2 separate regions of the Homo sapiens genome follow, and region 2 is linked to region 1. Evidence: fine-mapped expression QTL. A gene starts in region 1. The other region holds a variant in brackets. All regions are shown on one strand. Distances are from middle to middle. Region 1 holds the start of PYROXD1 (pyridine nucleotide-disulphide oxidoreductase domain 1). Region 2 overlaps PYROXD1 (pyridine nucleotide-disulphide oxidoreductase domain 1).

Region 1 (8,491 bases):
GGGAGGCTATTAGCAGCCATTGACATTGAAAACCCCAACAACCCTCACTACCACTGCAGACATCCAGAGTTGGATGCTGAGGATCCCTGCAATCTTCAACAACAATTAACTCAGCTGACGGAGCTGCACAGACTACAAAGTGGGCACCCTCACTGGTGCCAGAACTGCTACATCCCATCTAGCAAGCAGCCCTCCCCATAGGGGAAGGTCTTTCCACAGCAAAACTAGCCCATACTTCTGAAAACAGCAAGTGTGTCATCAAATGTGCAAACATCAACATAAGGCAGTAAGAAACATGATAAACCAAGAAGATATGCCACCAAAAGAACACAAATGTCAGAACTGCCTAAGAATTCAAAATAATTGTTTAAAGAAGCTGAAGGAACTTCAAGAAGTTACAAACAATTCAATTAAATCAGAAAAACAATAAGCAACCAAAACAAAAAATTTAAAAAGTTATTTAAAAACTAAAGCAGAAATTCTGACGATGAAAGATGCAATGAATGAAACAAAAAAAAATGCAACAGACTATGTCAACAAGAGAACTGATCACACAGAAGAAAACATCTGTGAATCTGAAGACAGATTATTTGAAAATATACAGTCAGAAGGGAAGAAGAAGAAAAAAGAATGAAAAAGAACATAGAAGTAGGGAATTAAAGGATGGCATCAAATGAGCAAATCTTTGAATTATAGGCGTTATAGAAGGAGACAAGAAAGACAAAGGAGTAGAACATGTATTTAAAGAAATAACAACAGAAAACTTTCCAGGCTGGGCGCGGTGGCTCACACCTGTAATCCCAGCAATTTGGGAGGCCGAGGTGGATGGATCACGAGGTCAGGAGTTCCAGACCAGCCTGGCCAATATGGTGAAACCCCGTCTCTACTAAAAAATACAAAAAATTAGCTGGGCATGGTTGCGGGCGCCTGTAGTCCTAGCTACTTGGGAGGCTGAGGCAGGAGAATGGCGTGAACCCAGGAGGCGGAGCTTGCAGTGAGCCAAGATCGTGCCACTGCACTCCAGTCTGGGCAACAGGGTGAGACTCCATCTCAAAAAAAAGCAATCAATTCACCATAATCAAGTGGGATTTATTCAGGGATGCAAAGATGGCTTAAAATATGCAAATCGGTAAATGTGATATACCACATTAACAGAACAAAGGACAAAAATCATGACCATCTCTACAGATATAGAAAAAATATTCAACAAAATTAAACGTCTTTTCATAATAAAAACCCAACAATTAGGTATGGAAGGAAAGTACCACAACAAAAAAATGGTCATATACAAGCCTATAGCTAATAATATATTGAATGGAGAAAAGCTGAAAGCTTTTCCAAGATCAAGAACAACACAAGGATGCCCACTCTCACAACTTCTATTCAACACAGTACTAAAGTCCTAGCTAGAGCAATTAAATTAGGTGACAGAAAGAAATAAAAGGCATCCAAATTGGAAAGATTTTAAATAGCTTGACTTAGCCATTCCACAATGTATACATGTATCAAAACATCATGTTGTACAGCATATAACTGTACTTGTCAATTTTTAAGAAAGAAAAAAATACACAATTACCCTAACTGCTATGCAAGTTATTGCAATTTTTTCAAATTAATATTAACAAGTTATACAAAGGTTCTTACCTGCTTGAAATTTGTAACTGCTTTAATAACAGGAGAAGCTGTTACCAAGAGAATATCTTCCGATGGAAAGTGAGTAGCCAACTTATTTTTAAAAAGAGAGAAAAAAAATTAGGACAAATTACTTTAAGTACTGGTATATATGGTTTGGGGTTGAGAATAATGCAATTTTAATAATGTAATTAATCTAGAAAATTAAAAACCCACTGTTCCTCATCTAAAGGTCTCCATTATCCTTGGTCTTGATGGGGCAATGGTGAATAATATTAAACTCTGATACTGAGAAAATAATATTTACAGTAAACACTAACAAAGAACTCCTGAACAAGAAAAGTGATATAAAGAAATATCCTTTATTTACTTCAACTATTTTTTATACCAATTTAGAGTTATAATGCAGAGGATGAGAATAAACTATCTTCCTAATTACCAGTTAAACCAACTTCTATTTATCTTAAAATAATATTTCATTTGTCTTCAATGGGATGAAATTAAAGCAAACCCTCAATATTAAACACTTAGAATATTGGTCTAACTTTCCCCAGGTGCTCTGGCACTCCTATTCTGCCTCTTCCAGTCAGTACATATTGTGGGACGATAAAGCCATTTTAATAATTGCTTCCACAAAATTTAGAGGTATAACTTGTTAATGTTTCATTATTTTCCTTTAGCTACAACCTCGGTCTTCTTCACTCTGTACCTGAAAGCATTTTCTTATCTCAAAGTCTGGTTCCTCGACACCACCACCCTCAATAATCTGGCTTCTATTCCTACTCCATCACTAAAACAGCATGTTTGAGGGATCTATGAATCCTTAAAATCCAAGGGATTATTTATTTTTTTTTTAATGGAGATGGGATCTTGCCATGTTGCCCAGTCTGGCTTCAAACTCCTGGACTCATGCAATCCTCCCACCTTGGCCTCCCAAAGTTCTAAGATTACAAGTGTGAGCTATCGTGCCCAACACCCATGCGATTCTTCTCAGTCTCATTTTATTTGAACTTTCTATATTTGACAATATCATTACTCTCTCCATCTTTCTTTCCTCTGTATATTCTGTAATTTATATCTCTGCTGTTTCCATTGCTAGATGAGGTCCTCAAAACTTCTTTATACTACTGAAATCACCTTCGAATTGGCTCTCCAGTTTCACGTATAAACCAGCTGCCTCTGCCACAAATACATTGTAACTAATCATCTTTCAAGCCTTTTCATATGATCAAGTTACTCCACTGCTCAAAAACATTTGACTACTTGTAAATTCTTGTTAAGTTCTCAGCATGCTAAGACTCCTTATGATCTATGCTTTAAGCTTTACTGCTCCCTGATGATCCATGCTTTTCCACTGGAGATGACATTCTTTTCTTGAATACTTGGTAAACTTTCACTCATTCTTTCATAATGAGATTTTAAAAATACCTTCTTTGATTAAAAAAATTTCCTCTTCCCTAATTCACTCCCTACATACTCCACAGGCACCTCTAAGATAACCGTTGATATCTCTTGCATAGACATACAATATTGTAATATTGTCTCTTCCAGCAGGCTGTGAGTCCCCAGCATGGTATATACCATGCTGTTCATAGTTGAACACTCAGCCCTTAATACGGTGCCTGCATCATATATGTTTACTTAGTGAATAAACGGAAAATACGCATCCAACGATGGAAACACTTGAGTTTCTTCCACTATTTCTTATGACTTCAGTGATTGCTCATGTTTACTTTATATCAACAAAATAATGTAGAACTTTTTGGAATACACACATGTATCTGAATATATATGGTCTGGCTATTCAGTATAATCAAGAAAGCAAGCCCTACATGCATTTAATCCTTCGCTGATTATTTTACAAAACTTTACTAGAAATAAAGTTTCTTCTATCTTGGGAGTTCGAAGTATAGAAAACTTACATATGGGATTCTTTATTAATTAGTTAAGATGCACTAAAGACTTGGCAACTATCTGGAAACTAAACTCAATCACCTACGATAATTAACAAAGGGGGCTGAGGGCCGGGTGCTGTGGCTCAGGCCTGTAATGCCAGCACTTCGGTAGGCGGAAGCGGGCAGACTGCTTGAGCCCAGGAGTTCGAGACCAGCCTGGCCAACATGGTGAAAGCCCGTCTCTACTAAAAATACAAACATTAGCGGGGCGTGGTGGCTGGCGCCTGTAATCCCAGCTACAGGCTGACGCAACAGAAGAATCGCTTGAACCCGGGAGGCAAAGCTTGCATTAAGCCAAGATCGCACCACTGCCCTCCAGTCTGGGCGACAGAGTGAGACTCCGTCTCAAAGAAAAAGAAAAAAAAATAAAAAGAAAGGGGGCTGAATTTTTTGTCTAAATACAAAGTCCTCATGTCTGCTCTGACATTACAAGGATCTGAGCACGGATCAGCCAGCTTTGGTTTCTCGGCTATAATTTGCCTCCCACTCCTCCCTGCGCCTAAGAGAAAGCTAGTGAGGTCATCTGAGGACCACCAAGCAGTTTCTAAAATCTGGGAGCAATAAGTGCGGAAAAGGGCGCAGCAAAAAAGGAACCCGGAAGAAGAAAAAGGGAGGGGGTGGGAGGAAGGCCTCCAGTGCTATCCCCTTTGGGGTCGGGGAAAGAGGCGGAACCGCCTGAGCACCGCCCTACCTGCTCCGCACAAGTGACGCCCGCGATGCCGCCGCCGACCACCACGAACTTCCCTGCCGTCGGGGGAGGGCGCGCTGCCTCCATGCTGCCGGACTCCCAGTGGTTTACTGAATATCGCGGCGGAGCAACGGGACTCTGGACTCCAGGAGAGGAAGCAGCCGCGAGGCGGTCACTTCCGGTGCCTTACCAGATAATCCGACCTACGGGTGCTCGGGAGCTCACACTACTCATCTCGAGTACCTGCTGCCGGCTGCGTTTCGGAAGCAACGAATTGTCTCGTGGTGTTCAGAGCTTTGCGTTACTATTACTACACCTGAATGTAGTTATTCCATGAAAATTTGACAAAGAGAAAACCAAAAAATTAAAAATAAAAAAGTAAAGAAGATGGGTTGCCCAAAGAAGTTTGATAAATTACATATCTAAAGATAGACCAGTGTTCTCACGGGACAAAACATTCATATAATAAATGAATTGGTGTGAAGTTCTCATTATTTGTTTCTGCGAGAAATTAGAGGCACAGATTTTATGCTCTTATGAGTAGAAGGAGCCTTCGGGAACATCCTGACCCCACTCCTGTCATTTTTGTAGATGAAGAAACTTGAGTCTTCTGAAAACCACTTGATTGCCACCGTTCACCTAACAATCCAAGATTTTTGTTTGTGGAAGCACAAAAATTCTTCATGACAAGGCAAAACAATACTACTGAATTGTTCTCTAAAAAATCATCCTTTTCATTTACAACTTTGACCTCAGCTAAAGTTTCCAGGAAGAATGTACAGTTGCTTTCCATTTTGTCAAAACAAATGAACATTTCTTAAATTTCCAGTCAATAGCAGCATGTGTGAGGGTTGAATGAAATATTCCCAGTCTCGGTTTTACTGTGAATTTTTTTCGTGGTCAATTGTTTTTAAGAAATTGCTAAATCATTTTTAACTGTTTTTACTATATTATTCACTATTCATATTATTTTACTATTTACTATTACCTTTGCTGTCTCATATAACTTTCCCTAGGAGTTGTTTTGTAATGGTAAGGTATTATCTCTCAAATGGTTCACTCTAAAACTGGTAATTACCCGAGTCCCTTTAATTCTTTAAACACTGAGAATAACCATTATATATTAACAGGAAAGCCTACCACGTATCTAATTACAGGCATTTACTGATACCTGTAAAAATCATTGTTCTTTGATTTACCAAGTTAAATGGTAAGCGGTTTAATAAACGTGTCTAATTCCTGTTACTAGTATAGCAACCAAACAAAGCATTCATTTCTAGGAGGAGGAAATACATTCCTTAAGCCCATTTAGATCTCATCTTGCTTCAGCTTATTTTCACATTATCTCACTCACACTGTGTTCCATTCAGGCCACACTACACTTCCAGATCCCAGGATATGCCATTTTCTTTCTGAGCATTTGCACATATCTTTTTCCCAACTACTTTTCCCTGGCTAACTCATCAACCTTTGGTTTCATCAAGCCATTGCTTCCCCTTTAAGATACTTTATCTAACATCCTCAAGACAGCTAGGTGTCCTCTCCGTGTGTTCTTATAGCACTTTGTCATCCTCTAAATTTAGACTTATCCCACTTTATTGTAAATTCTTACTGCCTGACCCCACCACCACCATAAACTGCTTACATAATCTCAGGGATTATTTTTGTCTCCCTTTGTATCTCCAATGTTTAGTAGGGAGTATGTATTCAACAAAAATGTGCTCAACGAAATAGGAAGTTGGTGGAGCATGAAACTCCCCTGAAGTCCTTCTAAAGATTTTTAGATTCATTGTCCAGGGTCAGGATCCTCTTGTATATTGTGACAGGGGTTTCCTCTTTATGGAAGTCGGAAGGAAGAATGGAGTGGAATTTAAGCTCCCAGGGGAAACGGAAGGAGATCATCGTCTGTGGGAGGGGAAGCAAAGTAGTAGGAGGCTCCTCAAATGTAAAGGGGTAATGACTCCACACTCTCCTTTTTTCTTCCCCTTGTGAAGGCTGGCTTTTTTGTCAAAGGTGATGTAGGGATAAGACCTAGCTGCCTGCCACACTGGCATGAATATCCAACTTTTAGAAATGTCTAAGGGTTAAAGAACTTTCAGTGCATCTCACCTTAATGTTGATTAAATTAGATACATATACTGGATGTAAAGTGGGTTAAAAGTAAGATGTAGGTAACTTGAAACATGTTATCCACAGGGAGGGCAGCAATAGGTACAGGTTAGGAGAAAGGGCAACTGCAAAGAAAACTGGGCACCTAGAAATAAGGGAGGCCCAATGCCAGGAAGCAGCAGAGAAGCAGAAAAGACAGAACTTCAGCTCCCCTTTAGCTCTGGTCAGCAAGCTTAGGAGTGACCTGGTGACTGTTTCTGAGGAGTCAAAGAAATACCAGTGTATTGCTAAATATTATGGTGTATGTTTATGGGTGGAAAAGAAAAGCAGGACTTGGCAAAGAAAGGTTCAGAGAAGAAGTGGAATTTATATTGAATCTCAAAGGCCCATAGCATTTGGATAGGTTCAGAAGAAGATGTGGCAAGTCATGTGGGAAATATCCCAAGAACCAAAGGCTTAGCAGCAGGAATGAGCATGGGAAATACAGGAGATGGTAAAAGGGAAGAAAGAAAGAAAAGTGGTTGGGGAGTTCAAGATTCATGTGGAAAAACTGAAGGAGATAAAGCTATCTTCTTCTATTTCTCTCCATAATGTTGTTACATCTGATTCCCATACCCACCTAATCTCTTGAAGGCCATCCCCAACTTTCAAACTACCATCAAAATCTAGTCTTCCATTCTTCTTCAAGTTGATATCAGAAATGCCTAGAATAGGAGTATTGAGGTTAATTTTCAACTGCAAAAATTGGGAATGAATAATGACATTTCATAGTTGGTGATTAATAGCTTTTGAGTCAGATGACCTAGGTTCAAATGTGGCACCAGCATTTCTTTGTTGTGTGACCATTCAGTGAGTTATTTACCTCATCTGAACCCTAGTTTCCTCATTGGCAAGACGGGTATAAGATCTACTTTGTAGAGTTGTTTTGATGCATGTGTGAGGCAACATATTTAAACTTCCTAGCATAGTGCGTGCCTCTTAGTAGGATTAATGGTTAAGTTGCCTGCCTGTGCCCTGTTGAATAGACTATGTTTCTCTGTCTAAAGGATTTTATCTATGATCATAACCTTAACAAGCCTATTATGCTTTTAACTCCCAAATGTCTATCTCTCATGCAATCTACTCTGAATCTTCAAGCCTGAAATTTCTGAAACATCTTGGATATCTTCTCATTTTTATCTTGGTTTTTGCCAATTCGCTGTAAGTACAGCCTGGATTCATCTTGCACTCGAAACCTCTTCTTTGTTTTGTTAGTTCATATAACTGATTTACTGAACAAGCTGGACTTTATAGGGAAGAAATTAAAGCAAACATTTTTATTTCTCAACGCTTTTCCTGTGAATGTATTTTTCTCCTCTAAATTCTTATTAATTTAGCTTATCTGATCATTCTCAGGTAATAAAAAGTCTGGTACTACCTATTATCAAAACTCCAGACACGCATCCAATTAAAGCCTCACCTAACTACAGGCAACGCAAATTGATTTCTTGTTGCTTTTTTGCTCCAGCTCTTCTCCTAACTAAGAGCTGATGTTTTCAGGGGCTTTAAGATTGGAGGGTGGGTAAGGAGTAAGGAGAGGAAAGAGCCTCACTGTTGTTCCTGTATGAGCATATATATGCAAACCTACCCCCAAAGGCTGAGAGAGCTGAGAGGCCAAAGAAAAACTGACAAATCCAGTTTCTCAGAAAGAGGTATTTAATAGGGACTTACACACAGAAATGATGATTCTGTTACAGTGCATCCCCACACCTGCCCTCCAGAAATTATGTAAGCTTTTAGGATAAAAGATGTACAGCTGATCATGTCTCAGACTTTCTTGCAAAACTCATGAACACTGGGGAGTCTAGATAAGAATCTTAATGAGAGAATTATCTAAGTTACAAGCTTTGTTTCTTTTGAAGGGTTATCTATGCTATGGGCATTGTTTAAGGACCTTGCTGCAGAACACCTTAGTATGCAGGAATCCAACATCAGTCATCATGGCCGTGGTGTCATTCTTGCCATACCGCAGGCTGTCTTCCTATATCTATGAATCAGTGGTGTGGTACAACTGTGAATCTGTGAGAGCTGATTGTTAAAATTTTAGGATTTGTGTGAGCTGATTGTT
Region 2 (8,000 bases), 23 kb before region 1:
TCAACAGATCTACATATATATTTAACTTTTCTGGGCCTCGGTTCATTTACCTGAAACGTAAACATAACACTACCTACTCTGTAACTATTGAGAGAATTAAACAGGTTAGCGTATAATAAGCACTTGGTTTCCTTCTACCTCCCTGTATGTGCATATGTACTTAATGCTGTCTTTTGTTTGCAGAAATAATATCATAATCATAGACATGAGTTTTAAGCATTTCTAGCAGAAGTGATAGATTTTTTTTTTTCAATCTCCTCTGTAAACAAGGTATTATAGATTTGATGAAGTGAAAGGCAGTTTATGGCTGGGGGTCAGAATAAACTGAGCACAGTAACAACTAGAGAACAGCTAATACAAGTGGCCGGAAAATTTGCATCTTGAACTGCATAAATTAGTATCCTTATTGCTTGTGTAAGCCAAGAAATGGGGCCTATAAGGTGCACTCAAAACAAGGCCATCTGTTTATTTTCGGATTTTTTCCCCTCTTTCAGATTATAACACATTAAGATATAATTTACCCTAGAGAATTAAAAATGTTAAAAAAAAAAAAACCCATAAACTCCAACTCTAAGAATTTGTGATAGTCTTGCCACAGAAATGACATAGAATGAGGCAGGTTAGAAACAAAAAGGCTGGAACCATTCTTACTGATGTCTCTACTGTCTGTAAGAACACAAAATGATGGTGCTGCCTCTTGAAATACTTTTAGCTCTTCTCCTACTTCACACTGCATAATCTGAATGAATAATGTCCCTAACTGTGGAGCTGGTCTTTAACAAAGATAAATGTTGCCTGGTTCCTTTATTTCAAACATCTACCTAGGTCTCTACCCCTCTGCACACCTCTGGTCACTGTCTTTATCTTCCTCTAGTATTTTTGTTCCACCGTTAGGAGGAGGTAGGTAAAGCTGTGAGGGTAGGAAAAAGTCTAGATCCAGTTGGGACTTGTTAAGGCTCAGGAAAGGTGTTTACTACAGGAATTTTTTTTTTTTTTTTTGAGACAGAGTTTTGCTCTTGTTGCCCAGGCTGGGGTGCAGTGGTGCGATCTCAGCTCACTGCAACCTCCGCCTCCCAGGTTCAAGGGATTCTTGTGCCTCAGCCTCCTGAATAGCTGGGATTACAGACGCACACCATCATGCTCAGCTAATTTTTTGTATTTTTAGTAAAGACGGGGTTTCATCATGTTGTTCAGGCTGGTCTCAAACTCCTAACTTCAGATGATACACCTGCCTCTCACCCTCCCAAAGTGCTGGGATTACAGGCGTGAGCCACTGCGCCCAGAACATTTTTTAGTAATGATTACCACAGGGACAGAATAGGATCATAAAGGAATAGAATGCTTTTCTATATAATTTACAATCTTAGTAGTTTTTTTAATCTAAAGTTGTGCTGTCCAACATCGTAGCCACATATATTTAAAGTTAATGAGAAGTAAGTAAAAATAATTCAGTTCCTCAGTCACATTAACCACATTTCAAGTGCTCATGTGACATACTGCTGGCTACCTGACTAGATGGTGAGGAATTAAACATTTCCATCATCACAGAAAGTTCTCCTGGACAGTGCTGATAAGCAGGTAAGAATGAAAAACAAAGTAATAGCCCATAATTTCTTTTAAAGTAAAAGATGTCTCAGTCTACCATTATAATGATAACTTACCAAACAGGGAAATATTCTAGTTTTTTTTTTAAATATATATAACAACTGTGCTAGCTTCCTACTTAAGCAGAAAAGTTGGAAAACCAGAAGTTGGATTTGTTGGTAACAACCGCTTTATTTTCAGACAGAATCTCTGATGAAAACATATAATTATATATGCTAGCTTACCTGCTGCCAGACTGGGCTCAGCTGCCAGGATGTAGTACAGATGTCACCGGCAGCATAGATATCAGGAAGGGATGTGTGCATATGATCATCCACTTTCAGGCCACCATCTTCTCCTAGATCAAACTAAACAACATTCCTCATAAGCGTTAAGTGTTAAGAAAAATGAAACGACTTTTTCCATTTTAAAGTAAAAGAACAAATTAAATTGTTACACTTTGCATGCTCATCTTTAATGAGAAAATGAAAAATATCAGCAAAGTTTAGACACCTGAGCTGAATTTCCATGGATCAAATTCCAACTAAGACTGATCCATAAAACTGTCAGAATTTCAACATGAAAAGTATCCAATAACCATGTGACTACCTTATCCATAACTACAAGAATATTCTTTTTTTTTTTTTGTAAGCTTCAAGTGCTGAAAAGCAAAAAATACAAGATGGTTTCTCTAAAAGAATCATTTTTGAGAAGTCACGGGAGGTGTCAGTCTCTTACCAACATTTAGATAAATAAATTGTACATTATAAACCATTACTGATGACGCTTATGCAAGGATATAACTATGTAAGGATTTTAAGCAGTAAAAAATACTGTAAATCAAGACAATGTTTTAACCAAACTGTTTCCAACCATGTTAAGTTACAGTTGTACACTAAAATAATAATTATTCATGTTTGAGAATTAGAGATCTTCACAAAAATACTTCAAATATATTCACAGCTGGACAAAAAAATTTCACCTTACACTGTTACCATGGAGAAAAGGTTCTACATTTGGTGTAACTCCTGTAGCACTGACAATGAAATCGCAGCCATATATCTTTTCATTGGTCAATTCCACATAGACAGGCCACATCTCTTTAAGAAAAAAAAACCAAAAAAACAGACTTTATTTGTAAATGGAACCATCACCACAGCAGTGTATGTGACTACAATGACTAGAAACAAAGAAAGAAAAAGAAAGGCAAGAGATAACTTTGTAACACACTCCTTAGCAATTATTATGAGGCATATTTGCTAAAGCAATTTTAATGCAATTAGCATCATCTCGTTTGGGTATAATTTTAAAACCATGGCATTTTAAATGTTTTTCCTTCAAATTTGGACACATAAATTTTGACAAAGTACATTTAAATTATTTCTAAATTATTTCTCTAAAAATCTTTTGTAATACTTTACACTCCACTTAAGTGTTTAGTTCAACTAGGTGTCTTCCCTCACTACTCATATTCAAATTCCCCTTTCCTATGGAAAAATTCAAAGAATTCAGAACAGTAGAATATTTCATATGCTAGTTAACTGAGTGTATTTCTTCAAATCATGGCAATTCTCAGAGGAGTTGTGGAACTGGAGTTAGGAGAGCTGCATCTTAGTCCCAAAAATATACATTTTCAATCTGATTTGGGTGAAATCATGTCACCTTTAAGAGCTCTAGGTTTTTGTCTTATTTTGATTTATAATATATTCTGATTGTTGGTCAAAACACTCAGCTCTATGTAAGATGTAATGCCCTATACGATTTAATTTACTAGAAAACAACAGACAGTGAAATGAAGTGAGTTAATGTTATTAAATTATGGTTTTATTTTTACTTTTCATGTTTAAATTTTATATGGAAATACGAAGTTATTTTTAATAGAACACAGCAGGATTAAATTGTTTTCCTTTTAATTAAGTGGTTATATATATTTTTTCTTATTTCATTACTTGCCTGTATCAGCTGTAACTGACTTATGGTCTCTTGGAAAAGTGAAGGACTTTTTCTTCAAAATTCTAAACTCATCCTGAAGGTAGATTTTCTTTACTTCACACATAGTTTCAAGGTGAATCTTATGAGAAAACTAAAATTAAGAAAATACTGGTTAGCATAATACTTACAGAAAGAATAACCCGGGTTACTAATGATGAAGAAAAAACGTATACTTGTAGAAATGTATAGAAAACATAATTCTTATAATATAAATGAAACCACATTGGGTGCCCTAAAATAAGTCTCTCTATGCACATGAAAGGAGTGAACAAAAATTCATTCAGTAACTTAAGAGATCTGGTAGCTGCATTAGCAGATAGCATCGAGGGAATGCTTTTTAGCCTAGGCCTCATTGATAATTACAAATGCATTTTTTAAAAATTACAGTAGTTGTTGGGCACAGTGGCTCACGCCTGTAATCCCAGCACTCTGGGAGGCCGAGGCGCAGGTGGATCACCTGAGGTCAGGAGTTCAAGACTAGCCTGGCCTATATGGTGAAACCCTGTCTCTACTAAAATTAAAAAATTAGCCAGGCCTGGTGGTGTGCGCCTGTAGTCCCAGCTACTCGGGAGGCTGAGGCAGGAGACTCGCTTGAACCCGGGAGGCAGAGGTTGCAGCGAGCCAAGATCATACCACAGCACTCCAGCTTGGGTGACAGAGCGAGACTCTGTCTCAAAAAAAATAAATAAATAAAATAAATAAATAAATAAATAAATAAAAATTTAAAAAATGACAACAGTTATGGACTATAAAATTTTCTTCAGGTCAGTTCTGACTTA[C/T]TGTCGTATCCCTGAACATTAATAAAGTCCCACGTAGGTAGTAAATACTCAATAAATGCTTATTGAATTAAACTGTTGAAGTTCTCAGGTTAAAAATATAATATTAGGATCTGAAGGTGCAAGAAGAAGGGACTTTGTGTAATTTCCATCACAAAAATTAGATACACCGTGCAGCCAGCTCCCCTCCTACCTACTGAAAGCCAAAAACCAATGCTCTAAAGAAATCACACAAAGTAACGAAGGACTGCATGCATGCTTCTTACAGCATTTAGATTTCACAGCCCTTTAACAACTATTAAAAAATCAAAATATCTAACAAAATGAGGAAAAGCAAATCATCTCCTTATCCAATTAGGGTATTAAGTGTGTATTTCCAATCCATCTAATAACTTTTGTAAGTTTACTGCATGCATCTGAAGTGACCTTTGAGAAAAGATTAATTTAAAATAGGACAGGAGTATTCACTGTAGTCTGGGTATAGAAAGCTCTATCCCTGATCTGAGGATATAGGAAAAAACAAACTCAGTTTCTCCTACTATAGTCTCACAACACAGAATACTTCTGTGACCAAATGTGTGTGGGGTGTTTTCTACACACTAAGCAAGCAATTAATTCTGCACAGGACACCATCTGGCTGTCCTCTAATTCAATTCAGTTCTGATGTTATTATCTACCTGGAGATAGCATCAGGTCCCACATGTTGAGGGATCAATCTCACAAGACTGTCTTCCACTTCCAATACCAATTGCATGCCCCGGGTGTTTTACCAGTTGGTCTGACTAACCAACCATAAATCAAGGGGCTCCCACGAGCCCCTTTCTTAGGTTCAATTAATTTATTAGAATATCTCACAGAATTTGGGGAAACACTTTACTTACATTTACTGGTTTATTATCAAGGATGTCACGAAGAAACAGATGAAGAAATACATAAGGCAAAGCATATAAGAAGGGGCATGAAGCTTCTATGCCCTCTCCAGATAGACCACCCTCTAGCAACTTCCACATGTTCAGCTATCCAGAAGCTCTCCAAACCCAGTCCTTTTGGGTTTTCATGGAAACTGTGTTATGTAGGTGACTGATTAAATTACTGGCTGCTAGTGATTGGCTTAACCTTCAACCTCTTTCCCTTCCTGTAGGTTGGAAAGTCTAAACTCTAATCATGTCTTGGTCTTTCCTGTGACCAGTCCCCATTCTGAAGCCACCTAGGGGCTAACCAGTCAACTCGTTAGCATACAAAAGGACACATCACTTTGGAGATGCCAAAAATTTTAGGAGTTGTGTGCCAGAAAACTGCAGACACAACATTTTATTGTGCTTCACTACTGTTTTGCAGATAGTGTGTTTTTTACAAATTGAAGGTTTGTGACAAACCCACATCAAGCAAGTCTTATCAGTGCCATTTTTCCAATAGCATGTGCTCACTTTGTGTCTCTGTCACATTTTGGTAATTCTTGCAATATTTCAGTTTTCATCATTATTAGATCTTTTATGGTGATCTGTGATTAGTAATCTTTGATGTACTACTGTAATTGTCTTGGGGTGTCATGAACCACACCCATCTAACACAGTGAACTTAATCGATAAATGTTCTGTGTTCTGACTGCTCCATCAACCAGCTGTTGTCCTATGTCTCTCCCTCTCCTTGGGCCTCCTTATTCCCGGAGACACAAGAATATTGAAACCAGGGCAATCAGTTACTCTGTAGTGGCCTCTAAGTGTTCAAGTGAAAGTAAGGATCACACATCTCTCACTTTAAATCAAAAGGTAGCAATGATTATTAGGGTTATTGAGGAAGGCACATGGAAAGCCAGGCCTCTTGCCCTGAACAGATGGCCAAATTGTGAATGCAAAGGAAACATTCTTGAAGTAAATCTAAAGTGGTATTCCAATGAACACATGAATGATGAGAAAGCGAAACAGTCTTCTTGCTGACATGGAGAAAGTTTTAGTGGTGTGGAGAGAAGATCAAATCAGCCACAACATTCCCTTAGGCCAAAGCCTAACCCAGAGTAAGCCCCTAACTGTTTTCAATTCTGTAAAGGCTGAGAGAAGTGAGGAAGCTGCAGAAGAAAAGGCTGAAGCTAGTAGAGGTTGGTTCATGATGTTTAAGTAAAGAAGCCATCTCTACAACAAAAATATACAATTGATAACTGATGAATGTGGCTACACTAAACAGTAGATTTTCAGTGTACATGAAACAGCCTTCCAGTGGAAAAAGATGCTATCTAGGACCTTCACAACTATAGAGGAGAAGTCAATGCCTGGCTTCAAAGGACAGGCAGACTCTCCTGTTAGGGGATAATGTAACTGGTGACTTGAAGTTGAAGCCAATGCCTATTTACCACTGTGAAAGTTCTAGGGCCCTTAAGAACTATACTACATCTACCCTGCCTGTCCTCTGTAAATGGAACAACAAAGCCTGGATGACAGCATTATATGGTTTGGGCCTGGTTCTCCACCCAAATCTCATATCAAATTGTAATCCCCAATGTTGGAGGTACGGCCTGGTGGGAGGTGACTGGATCATGGGGACAGTTTCTAATAGTTTAGCACCATCCTTAGTGCTGTTTTCATGTTAGAGTTCTCATGAGATCTGGTTGTTTAAAGGTGTGTGGCACCAGCCCCCTTCTCTCTCTTCCTCTTGCTCTGGCCATGTAAGAAGTGCATAATTCCCCTTCCCCCGTGATTGAAAGTTTCCTGAGGCCTCCCCAGTCATGCTTCCTGTACAGCCCGTGGGACCATGAGCCAATTAAACCTCTTTTCTTTATAAATATTACCTACTCTCAGGTATTTCTTTATATACTGTGAGAATGGAGTAATACACAGCACATCTGTTTACATAGTTTACTGAATATTTGAAGCCCACCATTGAGACCTACTGCTCAGAAAAAAAAAAAAAAAGATTCATTTCAAAATACTACACTCATTGACAAGGCATTTGGTCACCCAAGAACTCAGACAGAGATGCACAAGGAGATGAATGTTGTTTTCATGCCTGCTAATACAATATCCATTCTGCAGCCCATGGATCCAGGAGTAATTCTTACTTTCAAGTCTTATTAAAGAAATGCATTTCATAAGGCTATAGCTGCCACAGATAGTGATGCATCTGATGGATCTGGGAAAAGTACATTGAAAACCTTCTGGAAAGAATTCACCATTCTAGATGTTATTAAGAACATTCATGATTCAAGGGAGTAAGTCAAAATATCAACATTAACAAAAGCTTGAAAGAAGTTTACTCCAACCTTCATGGATGACTTTGAGGGATTCAAGATTTCAATGGAGAAAGGCAGATATGGTGGAAATAACAAAAGAACTGTAATTAGAAATGAATCCTGAAGATGAGACTACATTGCTGCAATCTCATGATAAAATTTGAAAAGATGAGTTGTTGTTTCTCATGGATGAGCAAAGAACGTAGTTATCTGAGATGGAGTTTACTTCTGGTGAGGATGCTGTGAGTATTGCTGAAATGATGAAGGATTTAAAATATTACATATACTTGGTAAAGCAGTAGCAGAGTTTGAGAGAATTGACTTTTGAAAGAACTTCTACTCTGGGCAAAATGCTATAAAACAGCTTCGCACGCTACAGAGAAGTCTTTCACGAGAGGAAGAGTCAATTGATGGGGCAAACTTGT

The links. PIP is the estimated chance that this variant, and not a neighbour inherited with it, causes the effect.
Region 2: its variant is fine-mapped to the expression of PYROXD1 in whole blood (INTERVAL, PIP 0.98).

What each region holds. Positions count from the first base shown.
Region 1 is chr12:21,433,602-21,442,092 of GRCh38, reverse strand. It overlaps PYROXD1 (pyridine nucleotide-disulphide oxidoreductase domain 1), which reads right to left and starts at 4,438. Exons shown (of 12, transcript NM_024854.5): 1 at 4,279-4,438; 2 at 1,645-1,725. The coding sequence starts at 4,362. RefSeq lists enhancers at 4,290-4,479, 4,530-4,609.
Region 2 is chr12:21,456,692-21,464,691 of GRCh38, reverse strand. PYROXD1 (pyridine nucleotide-disulphide oxidoreductase domain 1) reads right to left here. Exons shown (of 12, transcript NM_024854.5): 8 at 3,538-3,667; 9 at 2,572-2,684; 10 at 1,830-1,952. Among named protein-coding and RNA genes, the nearest start is that of PYROXD1, 23 kb to the right of the region's middle. The variant C/T (reference allele first, on the strand shown) is at 4,356.